2 separate regions of the Homo sapiens genome follow, and region 1 is linked to region 2. The links come from fine-mapping of genetic effects on gene expression. Tissue or cell type: transverse colon. Region 2 holds a variant in brackets; the other region holds the start of a gene. All regions are shown on one strand. Distances are between the middles of the regions.

Evidence for each region. PIP is the estimated chance that this variant, and not a neighbour inherited with it, causes the effect.
Region 1: ACADM starts here. The variant in region 2 is fine-mapped to the expression of ACADM in transverse colon (GTEx, PIP 0.96).

Annotation. Positions count from the first base shown.
Region 1 is chr1:75,721,682-75,729,789 of GRCh38, reverse strand. ACADM (acyl-CoA dehydrogenase medium chain) reads right to left here and starts at 5,081. Exons shown (of 12, transcript NM_000016.6): 1 at 4,973-5,081; 2 at 1,302-1,389. The coding sequence starts at 5,002. It also overlaps a transcript of SLC44A5 not described here. RefSeq lists enhancers at 4,866-4,955, 5,606-5,695 and silencers at 5,086-5,135, 5,186-5,235.
Region 2 is chr1:75,104,388-75,112,495 of GRCh38, reverse strand. No RefSeq gene overlaps it. Among named protein-coding and RNA genes, the nearest start is that of LHX8-AS1, 24 kb to the left of the region's middle. The variant G/T (reference allele first, on the strand shown) is at 4,394.

The sequences.
Region 1 (8,108 bases), 620 kb before region 2:
GGGCACAGTGGTTCATGCCTGTAATCCCAGCACTTTGGGAGGCAGAGGTGGGTGGATCACTTGTCTTCAGCTGTTCGAGACCAGCCTGGCCAACGTGGCAAAACCCCATCCCTACTAAAAATATAGAAATTAGCCAGGCATGATGACCCACACCTGTAGTCCCAGCTACTCAGGAGGCTGGGGCAGGAGAATCGCTTGATCCTGGGAGGTAGAGGTTGCAGTGAGCCACTTGCACACCAGCCTGGGTGACAGAGTGAGACTCTGTCTCAAAAAAAAGAAAAGAGAAAATTTTCATCCAGTCTTTGGCTAGAAGTCACAGGAAAAAAAAAAAAAACACAGAAACTTTTCATTTGGTCTGGGTGCAGTAGCTCATGCCTATAATCCCAGCACTTTGGGAGGCTGAAATAAGAGGACTGCTTGAGCCTAGGAGTTCAAGATCGGCCTGGGCAACATAATGAGACAATGAAACCTCATCTTAAAAAAAAAAAAAAAAAGAAAAAAGAAAGAAAGAAAAAGAAAAGAAAAATTTCATTAAATTCTGGTAAGAAAAAAAAAAACCTTTATAAAGAAAAGGGAAAAATCTTTAAAAAACACAACAAATAATAAAAAAAATAACTCTGGAGAGCTTTGAGATTGTCATTTGTACCTAGCTGTGAGTTATCGCAGCTGCCTTTAACTATTTTCTGAGACCAAATAAATTGAGTAAATGGTTTTTAACTAGAGAAAAAATAAAAATTTTGAAGAAGCACTTTAGAAGGCCAAGAATGCCAAAGATAGATATTATTTCAAATTTTTTGTGTGTAGTTTTCATTTTATAGAGGGCAGAGGAAAAAAAATCATGGCTCCCTGGTCCCAGGAGTGAGAACTTCATCTAATAGTACCAAAATTGCAATTTGGATATATTATAGCAAAAACAAGCTTTAGCTTATTACCAGGCACCTAGAATTGTAATCTAACAAGTGTTTTTAAAATGTATTTGTGGCATTCAGATATGTAAGTTGAAGACTATTCATATATATCAGTAAATCTCATTTATTTTGGGCTAAACACTCAGAAAAAAAGGAAGGAATTTAAGTGTATGTATGCTGCTAAAACAGATCTAATGTACAGTGTAGTATACTGAGGAAGAAAATGAGATCAGGAAGAATGGAGTGTGAGTTATTGTAAATTATCTGTGGACAGTGGACTGGTTCTACTCATTGAAAGACATTATTAAGTTTATTTACAAACATATTCCAAACAAAACATATAAAGCTTCATATGTATAAGTTTAAAGTCAAAAGATAGAACCGAACATATACCAAAACTAAATCCTAATCCTGGTTCACGTTGTCGATTGGCTTTTGTATGCTGTGATCTCCAATGAAAACGAGAAATACTTCTCAGGACCTGTAAAGAACACTTTTATTAAAATAAATTTGATAAGTTAAACATTAATCAGATAAGAGACTACTGATAATCATAAGTGAGTACAGCAACTGGTTTGACCATACTCATAGTTTTTAAAGTCATCACTATTTAAATGCCTTCAATCATAATTTAAATAAGCCAATTATCAGTTATATAAATTCCTATTACAGAGGAGATGTTTTTAAAAAGTAATGAAAATAAAGTCAGTGGTATTTATACTACTGAAGTGGAGGGTTTAGGACAAACAACAGTCAAGGGTAGTAGTAGATGTAGGACCACTATTCTGGGTATCTTACAAGCTCCTAGGACATTAATGGTTGGAGAGTTGGGGTGGGGAGAACGATAGGCTGGAAGTGAACATACTGTGTTCAAGAGTTGCCTAGTCCATCAACTTTGATACCCTGTCACTGTGAGCCTCCCATGCATGCCTCTGGAAACCTTCCCCTCAGAGGATCTCATTTTTTAGGATACCCCACTCTAACAAAACAAATTAGCATAAAACCATGTTCTGTATTTTCTGCTGTCTACAGGGATTCTTACAATGTTCTGAGCAAGGAGTCACCAAACCAGTGCAGCCACATCATGCTGTCTATTGCCGCTTTCACAGCAGATCTAAGTAGTTACCACAGAGACCATCTGGTTCACAAAGCCAAAAACATGTACTATCCGTTCCTTTACAAACACGTTTGCCATCCCTCTTCTAAACTACTAATACACTACTTGTCTTAGGATCTGAAATATAGTCATATTTCTTCAAAGGAACATATAAAGAAACAAACAATCAAATATACATATATTATTGTTTTGCAACCCATTTTTATATTCATGACAGTTTAATGGATACAAAAGTAAAAATTTGCATTTATTAAAGCTGCCAAACTGGGAACCACAATGGTGTTCTTGAGTAAAGGTTTCAGGACAGTCAAAATTACACAATTTTCACTGTAAAAGATTTTAATTGAACTATCCAGCAATTTTAACAAGCTTAGATACTAAGAGAAAAGAGCAGCTGAAGAATATACTAAAGTTTCTTTATTTAAATTCTTATGTTTTTCAAAATCCGTAAAAAGAAACTGTCTTTGTAGATGACAATTTCAACTTATAAAAGACGAATTCCTACATGTAAGGTGACAATATAATTAAGAGTGTCAAATATTTGTAATTGAAACAGTGCTTTCCAAATAACATACCTCATACTACAGTAATAAAAACATACAGAGTATGAAAACTCGCATTTTCTTTGCATCTTCATTAATTTTATTTTGAAAGTGAAACAGTGCCAGGTGGGGTGGCTCATGCGTGTAATCCCAGCACTTTGGGAGGCTGAGGTGGGCGGATCACGAGGTCAGGGGTTTGAGACCAGCCTGACCAACATGGTGAAACCCCATTTCTACTAAAAATACAAAAATTAGCCAGGTGTGGTGGCACGCACCTGTAGTCCCAGCTACTCGGGACGCTGAGGCAGGAGAATCGCTTGAACCCGGAAGGCGGAGGTTGCAGTGAGCCTAGACTGCACCATTGCATTCCAGCCTGGGTGACAGAGCAAGACTCCGTCTCAAAAAAAAAAAAAAAAAAAAAAGTGAAACAGTTTCTCTGGTGCTTATTGTCCAGCAGTCACAGACCAAATCTACTCTGATTTACAGTCGCGTTACACAGGTTAATTCACTGAATCCCAGGTCAAGTCTAGGATTAAGCCATTACTTTTATTCCACTTTCGCATGTGAAGAAACGAAGGCTCAGAAAGTCAACTAAATTAGGCAAAGTCACTCTACTATTAGTGCAACCAGGATTCTAACATTTACTATCAAGAGCGCATGCTATTAACCACCTTGCTATACTGATCTTTCTGTTAGTATCCTAATTGGTCACTAGGTTCCATAACAAAGGAAAACATTCCACAAAAATCAGAACAAAAAACCTGACTCTATTATAAATGCGTTTTTAAATACCATGCACAAAAGTCAGAACTCAAACCAGGTTAAATGGTCTACTGAGGGACTTTTTTTTTTTTTTGACAGAGTCTCCCTCTGTCACCCAGGCTAGAGTGCGGTGGAGAGATCTCCGCTCACTGCAGACTCAGCCTCCTGGGATTACAGGCATATGCTACCATGCCCAGCTAATTTTTCCTATTTTTAGTAAAGACAGGGTTTCCCTGCTTTGGCCAGGCTGGTCTCGAACTCCTGGCCTTAAGTGATCAACCCGCCGAGGCCTCCCAAGGTGCTAGGATCACAACCGTGAGCCGCCGCACCTGGCCAACCGAGGGAATTTAAATAGGGAAAAAGTCACTTCACATGTGACTGTTCAGGAAAATATGTTACATAGAACAAAGTGCAAAGGTTGCTATTACCAGAATACAATGCCCATCAACCTGTTAATTACATAACAAAGTTAGCCAGTTAATTAGAGAGGTGGTTTGCAAATAGAAAACAGAAACAGCACGGGATCTGGAGTTATAATTGCTGAATGTGAATCTAGGTTCCACAACCATATTTGTGGCCGTAGACAGGTTTACAAACTGCTTATAGCTTCCGTTCAAAACCAAAAAATGGGACTAATCTCACTGCGTATTTTCGGACGATTAAAGTACGATAATGTTTTGAAAGCCTAATGCTATATAACTATTGGTTTTATTACTTCGGGCTCTCTGTCTAGAACAATGAAATTCCAAATATCGAAACAGCACCACTAGAATTGAACACTTTTGTGCATTTCTTGGGAATATAAGAGTGTCAGTTTTATGGGTTAAAGAAGAGAAAAAGGGTGTAAGTTTTCTATATCAGGTTTTTTTTAGATCCTTCCTTGGAGGTTGAGAAATCTGCTTTTCTGGTGTAGGAGTTAAAAATAGCTGAAATCTCCCAATTTCTGCCTTCACTGCACATTAACTTGCATAACACCAGCAAAACATGGGCAGCAATTCTTTAGGATTATTCTAAAACCGCAGCTTTTTTGGTCCAAGACATAACTTTAACTTAATTTTAAGTGACATCTAAATGGCAGTGGTGTGAACATATCAAGAATATTTAAGATACCAAAATTCATCTAGTGACAAACTTATTTAGAATCTATTAAGATCCAATACTAGAATATACACACAAGTTCACATAAAATTCTGCAGGTTTTTTTTTTACTTTTTTTTTTCCCGTAAGCAACGTGGAAACGTTACAACGAAAAGCTTATTAAACATTAAGTATTTCAAGGAGTAGCTGCTCCATTTTTCTTTTTCCCGTGGTTCTGACACAGAGACGGGGTCACTTTGGAAAAAGGTGGGATTCCCGCGGTAAATATTTGGAGGGTTTACCAGAGAAAGAAAAACGATATTCTAAAGAGAGGATGCCGGCTATAACGGGGTCGCCTGACGGGAGGATACGGAAAATGAAACGCTAGGCTACGTTCCGTCCGGTGGTAGGAGGCGTGAAAGCAGGTTGGGGGCCCCTAGGCTGGCTCCTTCCTCAGCCCGACTTCCCACTCCTCCCGGCCGCACCTATTTTTGGCCCAGGGCCCCCTGCTCCGACACCACAATACCCATGTTCCAGCCCCACCGCACCGCTGGGCTCCCTCTCACCCTGCAGCATCGCCCGAACCCCGCTGCCATGTTGGCTCCCGTTCCGGCCACTCGGACAATAATACACGGGTCACGGCCTTGACATACTCCCCGAACGCGGGACTCCTCTGGTCCCGCCCACTGGAGCCCGTGGGCGGGATGGGGCGGGGCGGGAAGAGGCGGTTGGGCTGCGGAAGGACGGGGCGCTGCGCTAGGCGGGGTGGCAGCGGTCCCCGGCGCCGGGTAGCCAACGCATGCTCCGTGACCCTTGCGTGCGCCGTCGCTGCGACCTGGGGAGGGGTCGCATCCCCTCTCCGGGCAATCTCTGATAGTCCTGGTTTGGTTTTCTGCGTTTCCACCTCTGGCCCTCTCTGTGGGACGCCGAGGCTGACCGCAGCGCGGAAAGAGAGCCAGGGCGGGGGAGGGGGACGGCGGCGGGGCTGGGAGGGCCCGGTTGCGCTGAACGGTGGGGGGACTTGCGGCGCGGTGCAGGACGGGAACCTGGGTTAGAGGGCGTGGCTGGGGCCTGGAGGGAGAGCGGCCCCCGTGGTCAGCCTTCACCTTTACCCGGAGAGAACGGTCAAACCCAGATCGTGTCTGCTTGGCGGATTCAAAGTATTAGTACATTTTGCTCTCAAATGCCCTACCTAAAGCGAAAGCATACTTGTGTTTCCTTAAAATTTAAAAGAGAATTTAATTGTTTAGGTAAATTTGACCTTTCCGCGTATTCCCAAGGCTGTTTATGACTTGTCCGCTGATGTGGTGTCCTTGGATATGCGGGTGCAATCCGAGGCTGTCCAAAGCTCCTGGTTCAGCGAATGATGGAAGTGAATGTCTCCCTGAGGAATTCTACCTGGAGTCACTTTCTCTTCCAGTGAGACCCTGAGTTTTGAGATGGTAGCTTATACTAAATCTTATACTAACTTAACATTTTCTTTTGCCCAATAAAGGTCACCCATAAATTCATCTAATTTAGCTGTTAAAATTCTATATCCTGTTATTGTATTCCCCTACTTTGTCTTCTGGGAATTTATAGTGTGTTAGTCCTAGGTACAAGGCAGAATGTTAATTAAGCGCTATATTCAAAGTGAAAGTACCAGGAAAATTCGGAAAAGGGATAAAGAGCTGAGTTTGTCCTGGTATAGGCAAGAAAGCCTTCAAAGTGGTGGTGGTAAGTAAAACACAAAGCGGACTCTTAAAGATGATTAGGAATTGTCTATTCATGTCTCCTTTGTTCCAATTTCTTATTCTGAACATTTTAAACACAGAAAAGATGAACGAAAAGCACAAAATCACCCATATGCCTATTGTAACCCCTTCTTACTGTACACGTGGCTGGCAGAGAAGCGAAGATGGAGCCCTCATCTTAAACATGTCTAGTCGGTAGTTCCTGCCACCATTCACCCAAGCAAGCTACCCCCTTGTTTGTCTGTGCCTGCAGCTCGACTTCACAGGCTGCTCTTAGAAAAGGATTTGGGGCTGCTTTTCATTAAAAAGAAAAGCCTTACTGATGTTGGGAACGGGCGCTCAGTGTTGCAAAAATCAACACTGAGACAAAGGAGCTCTTAGCAAGGCTAGTTTACTTTCTGCAGAAAGGTTGCCGCTCGCTAGTAGTCTTGCCACGAGAGCACACACGCATAAAGGAGACAGGGTCATTTATAACCTGACACGTGCACCCTACTACCGTGTCCGGTTTCCATTGGCTGGAAGGGGACCTCTGTACTTGTCCTGATTGGCTAGCAACTTAGAACTTTCCAAAAGAGGCAAAGACAGAGGAGAACAAAGGAAGGAGGAAGCAACTTGTGGAATGCTGAGAAAGGTAAAAACACCTCCAGATAAGGAAGAAAACAGGCTATGGCCTAATGCTTCCTTGGACCAGTATAAGCATGCCAGGGCAAATATCTAGGCTAAAATGTGGCAGCTAAGAGCACAAAGTACATTGATTTCTTTATTACGGCCAACAGATATCAAAGAATGTTAGTGTGGCCAACTGCCACGGTTACTACTTGAGACCATCGTTACAGCAGTTACTACTGTTACTGCTTGAGACCATCATTGTGAGATCAAATGAAGGGACGAACGTAGAAATGATAACTTAAGACAAAAGGAACTGTTTTAAGGAAAGGGCCAGGGGAAGAAGAAGAGAGCTCCCTGCTTCTCGTGAGCAAAGGCAGCCACAGAGCTTCCACAGCCCTTCCTATTTTTTGGGTAACAGGAGCAGGGAGGAGGTGGTAACGATTGGTCAGCTGCTTAATTGATCACAGGTTCATATTGTTACTGACAGGCTTCAATTATGCCTAATCATAAGAAACATTTGTGCCTAGATCGTAACTACCCTCAGCAGTCCTCCTGGGTGGCATACGCAGTTTGTCAGTTCGCCAACGTTCTGCATTTATGAGAAACAGTTTGCTGCTTACTCATATAGCCTCCAGTGATATACTGAGTTGATCACGAACCTCATTGTTTCGGCCTCCAATATGTTAGCACAGTTCTTTGAATAAATTTTGCTTTTAAGAGAAGTTACTGTTTATTCCTAATTAGACGGAAAGGAAAGTCCATTTGAAGAGGAACCTCTACTTCACTTTTTACACTGAGGACTCCCATACTCGTACTATCGGCCTGAGTAATTTCTTCTCAATATCATTATCACCTAGATTCAAATATTTTTCCATATTTATTTATATATTTATATGTGTACCTATGTGTGTGTGTTTTGGTTGTTGGTTTTATTTTTCTCAGATCTGTAGGTTGTAGATAAGACACTTCAGTTCAGAATACTTTAGCTATATGTCTCCTACAAGGACATTTTCCTATATAACCATTTCCTATAAAACCTTTATCACATCAATGAAAATTAACAATTATTCGCTACTATTATTTAAGGTCCAGAGAATATTTACATTTCTCCAGTTGTCCAGTTGTCTCCAGAATACCTTTTGTAAATAGTTTGTTTTTGAACCAGGATCCTATGAATGATTGCCCATTGAAGTTGGGCTTTAACTTTCTTTGGCTTCTTTTAATCTAAAGCTTTTAATCTAATTCATTTTTCCCAATAATAACTGTCTTTTTAAACAAATTTAAGATACCAAGCAGTTGTCATGAAGAATGCCCTAATGCTGGATTGTCCGATTTTATTTATTTTGTACCTCTAGATTTT
Region 2 (8,108 bases):
ACAGCAGTCTGAGAACAAACTGCAAGGCGGCAGTGAGGCTGCGGGAGGGGCGCCCGCCATTGCCCAGGCTTGCTTAGGTAAACAAAGCAGCCCAGAAGCTCGAACTGGGTGGAGCCCACCATAGCTCAAGGAGGCCTGCCTTCCTCTGTAGGCTCCACCTCTGGGGGCAGGGCACAGACAAACAAAAAGACAGCAGTAACCTCTGCAGACTTAAATGTCCCTGTCTGACAGCTTTGAAGAGAGCAGTAGTTCCCCCAGCACGGAGCTGGAGATCTGAGAACGGGCAGACTGCCTCCTCAAATGGGTCCCTGACACTGACCCCTGAGCAGCCTAACTGGGAAGCCCCCCCAGCAGGGGCAGACTGACACCTCACATGGCAGGGTACTCCAACAGACCTGCAGCTGAGGGTCCTGTCTGTTAGAAGGAAAACTAACAAACAGAAAGGACATCCACACCAGAAACCCATCTGTACATCACCATCATCAAAGAACAAAAGTAGATTAAACCACAAAGATGGGGAAAAAACAGAGCAGAAAAACTTGAAACTCTAAAAAGCAGAGCACCTCTCCTCCTCCAAAGGAACGCAGTTCCTCACCAGCAATGGAACAAAGCTGGACGGAGAATGACTTTGATGAGCTGAGAGAAGAAGGCTTCAGACGACCAAATTACTCTGAGCTATGGGAGGACATTCAAACCAAAGGCATAGAAGTTGAAAACTTTGAAAAAAATTTAGAAGAATGTATAACTAGAATAACCAATACAGAGAAGTGCTTAAAGGAGCTGATGGAGCTGAAAACCAAGGCTCGAGAACTACATGAAGAATGCAGAAGCCTCAGGAGCCGATGCGATCAACTGGAAGAAAGGTATCAGTGATGGAAGATGAAATGAGTGAAATGAAGCAAGAAGGGAAGTTTAGAGAAAAAAGAATAAAAAGAAACGAGCAAAGCCACCAAGAAATATGGGACTATGTGAAAAGACCAAATCTACGTCTGATTGGTGTACCTGAAAGTGACGGGGAGAATGGAACCAAGTTGGAAAACACTCTGCAGGATATTATCCAGGAGAACTTCCCCAATCTAGCAAGGCAGGCCAACGTTCAGATTCAGGAAATACAGAGAACGCCACAAAGATACTCCTCGACAAAAGCAACTCCAAGACACATAATTGTCAGATTCACCAAAGTTGAAATGAAGGAAAAAATGTTAAGGGCAGCCAGAGAGAAAGGTCGGGTTACCCTCAAAGGGAAGCCCATCAAACTAACAGCGGATCTCTTGGCAGAAACGCTACAAGCCAGAAGAGAGTGGGGGCCAATATTCAACATTCTTAAAGAAAAGAATTTTCAACCCAGAATTTCATATCCAGCCAAACTATGCTTCATAAGTGAAGGAGAAATAAAATACTTTACAGACAAGCAAATGCTGAGAGATTTTTATGACCACCAGGCCTGCCCTAAAAGAGCTCCTGAAGGAAGCGCTAAACATGGAAAGGAACAACCGGTACGAGCCACTGCAAAATCATGCCAAAATGTAAAGACCATTGAGACTAGGAAGAAACTGCATCAACAAACGAGCAAAATAACCAGCTAACATCATAATGACAGGATCAAATTCACACATAACAATATTAACTTTAAATGTTAATGGACTAAATGCTCCAATTAAAAGACACAGACTGGCAAATTGGATAAAGAGTCAAGACCCATCAGTGTGCTGTATTCAGGAAACCCATCTCACGTGCAGAGACACACATAGGCTCAAAATAAAAGGATGGAGGAAGATCTACCAAGCAAATGGAAAACAAAAAAAGGCAGGGGTTGCAATCCTAGTCTCTGATAAAACAGACTTTAAACCAACAAAGATCAAAAGAGACAAAGAAGGCCATTACATAATGGTAAAGGGATCAATTCAACAAGAAGAGCTAACTATCCTAAATATATATGCACCCAATACAGGAGCACCCAGATTCATAAAGCAAGTCCTTAGTGACCTACAAAGAGACTTAGACTCCCACACAATAATAATGGGAGACTTTAACACCCCACTGTCAACATTAGACAGAACAACAAGACAGAATGTCAAAAAGGATACTCAGGAATTGAACTCAGCTCTGCACCAAGCGGACCTAATAGACATCTACAGAACTCTCCACCCCAAATCAACAGAATATACATTTTTTTCAGCACCACACCACACCTATTCCAAAATTGACCACATACTTGGAAGTAAAGCTGTCCTCAGCAAATGTAAAAGAACAGAAATTATAACAAACTATCTCTCAGACCACAGTGCAATCAAACTAGAACTCAGGATTAAGAATCTCACTCAAAACCGCTCAACTACATGGAAACTGAACAACCTGCTCCTGAATGACTACTGGGTACATAACAAAATGAAGGCAGAAATAAAGATGTTCTTTGAAACCAACGAAAACAAAGACACAACATACCAGAATCTCTGGGACACATTCAAAGCAGTGTGTAGAGGGAAATTTATAGCACTAAATGCCCACAAGAGAAAGCAGGAAAGATCTAAAATTGACACCCTAACATCACAATTAAATGAACTAGAAAAGCAAGAGCAAACACATTCAAAAGCTAGCAGAAGGCAAGAAATAACTAAAATCAGAGCAGAACTGAAGGAAATAGAGACACAAAAAACCCTTCAAAAAACTTAATGAATCCAGGAGCTGGTTTTTTGAAAGGATCAACAAAATTGATAGACCGCTAGCAAGACTAATAAAGAAAAAAAGAGAGAAGAATCAAATAGATGCAATAAAAATGATAAAGGGGATATCACCACCGATCCCACAGAAATACAAACTACCATCAGAGAATACTACAACCACCTCTACACAAATAAACGAGAAAATCTAGAAGAAATGGATAAATTCCTCGACACATACACTCTCCCAAGACTAAACCAGGAAGAAGTTGAATCTCTGAATAGACCAATAACAGACTCTGAAATTGTGGCAATAATCAATAGCTTACCAACCAAAAAGAGTCCAGGACCAGATGGATTCACAGCCGAATTCTACCAGAGGCACAAGGAGGAACTGGTACCATTCCTTCTGAAACTATTCCAATGAATAGAAAAAGAGGGAATCCTCCCTAACTCATTTTATGAGGCCAGCATCATCCTGATATCAAAGCCTGGCAGAGACACAACCAAAAAAGAGAATTTTAGACCAATATCCCTGATGAACATTGATGCAAAAATCCTCAATAAAATACTGGCAAACCAAATCCAGCAGCACATCAAAAAGCTTATCCACCATGATCAAGTGGGCTTCATCCCTGGGATGCAAGGCTGGTTCAATATACGCAAATCAATAAATGTAATCCAGCATATAAACAGAAGCAAAGACAAAAACCACATGATTATCTCAATAGATGCAGAAAAGGCCTTTGACAAAATTCAACAACACTTCATGCTAAAAACTCTCAATAAATTAGGTATTGATGGGACGTATTTCAAAATAATAAGAGCTATCTGTGACAAACCCACAGCCAATATCATACTGAATGGGCAAAAACTGGAAGCATTCCCTTTGAAAACTGGCACAAGACAGGGATGCCCTCTCTCACCACTCCTATTCAACATAGTGTTGGAAGTTCTGGCCAGGGCAATCAGGCAGGAGAAGGGAATAAAGGGTATTCAATTAGGAAAAGAGGAAGTCAAATTGTCCCTGTTTGCAGATGACATGATTGTATATCTAGAAAACCCCATTGTCTGAGCCCAAAATCTCCTTAAGCTGATAAGCACCTTCAGCAAAGTCTCAGGATACAAAATCAATGTACAAAAATCACAAGCATTCTTATACACCAACAAGAGACAAAGAGAGCCAAATCATGAGTGAACTCCCATTCACAATTGCTGCAAAGAGAATAAAATACCTAGGAATCCAACTTACAAGGGATGTGAAGGACCTCTTCAAGGAGAACTACAAACCACTGATCAACGAAATAAAAGAGGATACAAACAAATGGAAGAACATTCCATGCTCATGGGTAGGAAGATTCAATATCGTGAAAATGGCCATACTGCCCAAGGTAATTTACAGATTCAATGCCATCCCCATCAAGCTACCAATGACTTCCTTCACAGAATTGGAAAAAACTACTTTAAAGTTCATATGGAACCAAAAAAGAGCCCGCATCGCCAAGTCAAACCTAAGCCAAAAGAACAAAGCCAGAGGCATCACACTACCTGACTTCAAACTATACTACAAGGCTACAGTAACCAAAACAGCATGGTACTGGTACCAAAACAGAGATATAGATCAATGGAACAGAACAGAGCCCTCAGAAATAACGCCGCATATCTACAACTATCTGATCTTTGACAAACCTGACAAAAACAAGCAATGGGGAAAGGATTCCCTATTTAATAAA[G/T]GGTGCTGGGAAAACTGGCTAGCCATATGTAGAAAGCCAAAACTGGATCCCTTCCTTACACCTTATACAAAAATCAATTCAAGGTGGTATAAAGACTTAAACGTTAGACCTAAAACCATAAAAACCCTAGAAGAAAACCTAGGCAATACCATTCAGGACATAGGCATGGGCAAGGACTTCATGTCTAAAACACCAAAAGCAATGGCAACAAAAGCCAAAATTGACAAATGGTATCTAATTAAACTAAAGAGCTTCTGTACAGCAAAAGAAACTACCATCAGAGTGAACAGGCAACCTACAAAATGGGAGAAAATTTTCGCAACCTACTCATCTGACAAAGGGCTAATATCCAGAATCTACAATGAACTCAAACAAATTAACAAGAAAAAAACAAACAACCCCATCAAAAAGTGGGCGAAGGACATGAACAGACACTTCTCAAAAGAAGACATTTATGCAGCCAGAAAACACATGAAAAAATGCTCACCATCACTAGCCATCAGAGAAATGCAAATCGAAACCACAATGAGATACCATCTCACACCAGTTACAATGGCAATCATTAAAAAGTCAGGAAACAACAGGTGCTGGAGAGGATGTGGAGAAATAGGAACACTTTTACCCTGTTGGTGGGACTGTAAACTAGTTCAACCATTGTGGAAGTCAGTGTGGCGATTCCTTAGGGATCTAGAACTGGAAATACCATTTGACCCAGCCATCCCATTACTGGGTATATACCCAAAGGACTATAAATCATGCTGCTATAAAGACACATGCACACGTATGTTTATTGCAGCATTATTCACAATAGCAAAGACTTGGAACCAACCCAAATGTCCAACAATGATAGACTGGATTAAGAAAATGTGGCACATATACACCATGGAATACTATGCAGCCATAAAAAATGATGAATTCATGTCCTTTGTAGGGACATGGATGAAATTGGAAATCATCATTCTCAGTAAACTATCGCAAGAACAAAAAACCAAACACCGCATATTCTCACTCATAGGTGGGAGTTGAGCAATGAGAACACATGGACACAAGAAGGGGAACATCACACTCTGGGGACTGTTGTGGGGTGGGGGGAGGGGGGAGGGATAGCATTGGGAGATATACCTAATGCTAGATGACGAGTTAGTGGGTGCAGCGCACCAGCATGGCACATGTATACTTATGTAACTAACCTGCACATTATGCACATGTACCCTAAAACTTAAAGTAGAATAATAATTTTTTTAAAAAAGTAATAAAAATTGAAATGCTAGTTTATGTTTTAAAAGGCATTAGATTATAGTTTTATTCCTCATAACCAAATATGTATAAATAATCATAATTAAGTTTGATAATGTTATGCAGTAACATATTATATAATATTGTATATAATATTTTATAATGTTTAACATGAGATAATTATAAATGTAGTTAGCATTTATAATTGTTTGCTAATCATACTTATGTCTGTCTAATAGGATGTAATACTATATTATAATTAGTAAATAGAGCATTTATTAAGATTATGTTATTTTAAACAACTGGGCATTAAAATTTAGAATTAGAGTGTAGGCATTAATTTCATATGAATTCCTCTGTGTGAACACAAATAAGAAAATGAACATGTTCCAAAATGTTTAAAGCCAATGTCAAGGCCCCCCCCCAAAAAAAACCCCTAAAAATCTTGAGAAAGGCATTTTGAAATAGTTGATGTGTTCAATGAAACTAAAAAGACACTACAATGAAGAGCATAGGCTATTTTGGGTTTTGTGTTTGTTTGTTTTTTGCACTTTATAAGCTATGCCAACACTGGATATATTTTCACATTTTATAATGTGAAATAATGAGCTATGTTTATACAAAGTAAAAGTGCTTTAGAGTTGGAAACTTGACTTTTATTTTCTTAGCTGCATTCTATTTGGTTCATCAAAGACATGGTACCAGCTGTTTCATTATGTCCATATCATTAGGCACAAAGCCCTTGTATGTGAATCAAGGTAGATTTGTTTTATGTTTGACTTACTTTGAATGGAGAAAAAACCAAGAGTGCTCATGAGCTACTTAGATGGTGCAGAAATGCTTGAAAAGAAAGCCATACATGGATTGCTAGTTATTACAATTGTTTAAAAAAGTATAATTTTGAGCCAGAAACAGTTGTTATATGTGAACTGCTTATTTGATTAATTATAATAGTAGATATGATGACTTCAAGGCTTAATTTTTTGGACTACTAACTTTTTTTTTTTTTTTTTTTTTGCCATGAAGACAAACTAGAAAAATGTTTTGGGGCCAATTAAAAATCATTCTGTGTCATTTGTTCTAACTATAAATATGGTATATATACTTACTAAAAGTTAAAATATTAAACATACAAACAAAAACCACCCAAAATCTCACATGCAGGATGGGTTACATTTTTAAATGATAAAAGATTGTTTCTTCACTTTGTTGGATCCTGTAGAAAAAAACGTACATTTTTAAAAGGAAGAAAACAACTAATTTTGTTTATTTTTTTGTGGAGATGAGGTCTTACTCTGTTGCCCAGGCTCATCTCCAACTCCTGGACTCAAGTGATCCTCCAGCCTTGGACTCCCAAAGTGCTGAGATTACAGGCGTGAGCCACCATAACTAGCCTGGATTTCTTAAATGAATGTTTTTACTCAGAATTTGTTAACCCCTCAAAGCATCAAAATATAAAGGCATGAATGATAATTGTATTAGCTTTTTATAACTTACAAAATAATTTAAAGCTATATAACACAATTAAGTATTTAAAAGGCTTTGTGGAGCTAGAAAGACAATTTGTCATTTGAGTTTTGTTTAATCACGATAAATACATATATACATATATATATATACACATATATATACATATATATACATATGTATATATATGTGTGTATATATATATATATATATATATATATCTCGAGGCAGAGTCTCGCTCTGTTGCCCAGGACGGAGTGCAGTGATGCAATATCAGCTCACTGCAACTTCTGATTCTGGGGCTCAAATGATCCTCCCAACTCAGCCTCAGCCACGCCCCCATCCTTCCAGTAGCTGGGACTGCAGGTGCATGCTGCTATGCTGGGCTAATTTTTAAAACAGATGGGGGTCTCACTTTGTTGCCAGTGCTGGTCTCCAGCTCCTGGGCTTAAGCTATCTGCCTGCCTCAGGCGTCCAAAGTGCTGGGATTACAGGCGTGAGCCACCGCACCAAGCCCCTTTTATCATTTTGAGTGAATTAAAATGAAATAGTATTTTTTATGAAATCTATTTTCTATTATTAATGTAATGAAAGGAAGAGTTTTTGCCATATTGGTTTAATTTTTTCCACTTTAAAAAATATGTTCATTATATTATCACTAGTTTGCTTATTGTACTCGTTCATAATTAATGATGTCATAGGGGACCTGAAGTTGATTGTTTCTTATCTTCTGGAAATGTTTTTATACTCAATAGGCTGCAAAAACAAATTCCTACAGCAGTGTCTGAATCTGGAAGATCTCTGCATGTGCACATGATTTCCTATGTGAAAACAAAACAAAAAAATGTGAATTGTCATTATCATTTTATAATCATCTCTAGTCTTTAAAGTGACAGAGAGGTAATGTGTCTAATCTACCTTCAGAGAATCTTTATTAATTCAAACTCTGCTAATTTAGAGTTGGTGATCATATAAATGGAGTCTTCCTTTCTTTAGAGAGAATACTCATGAA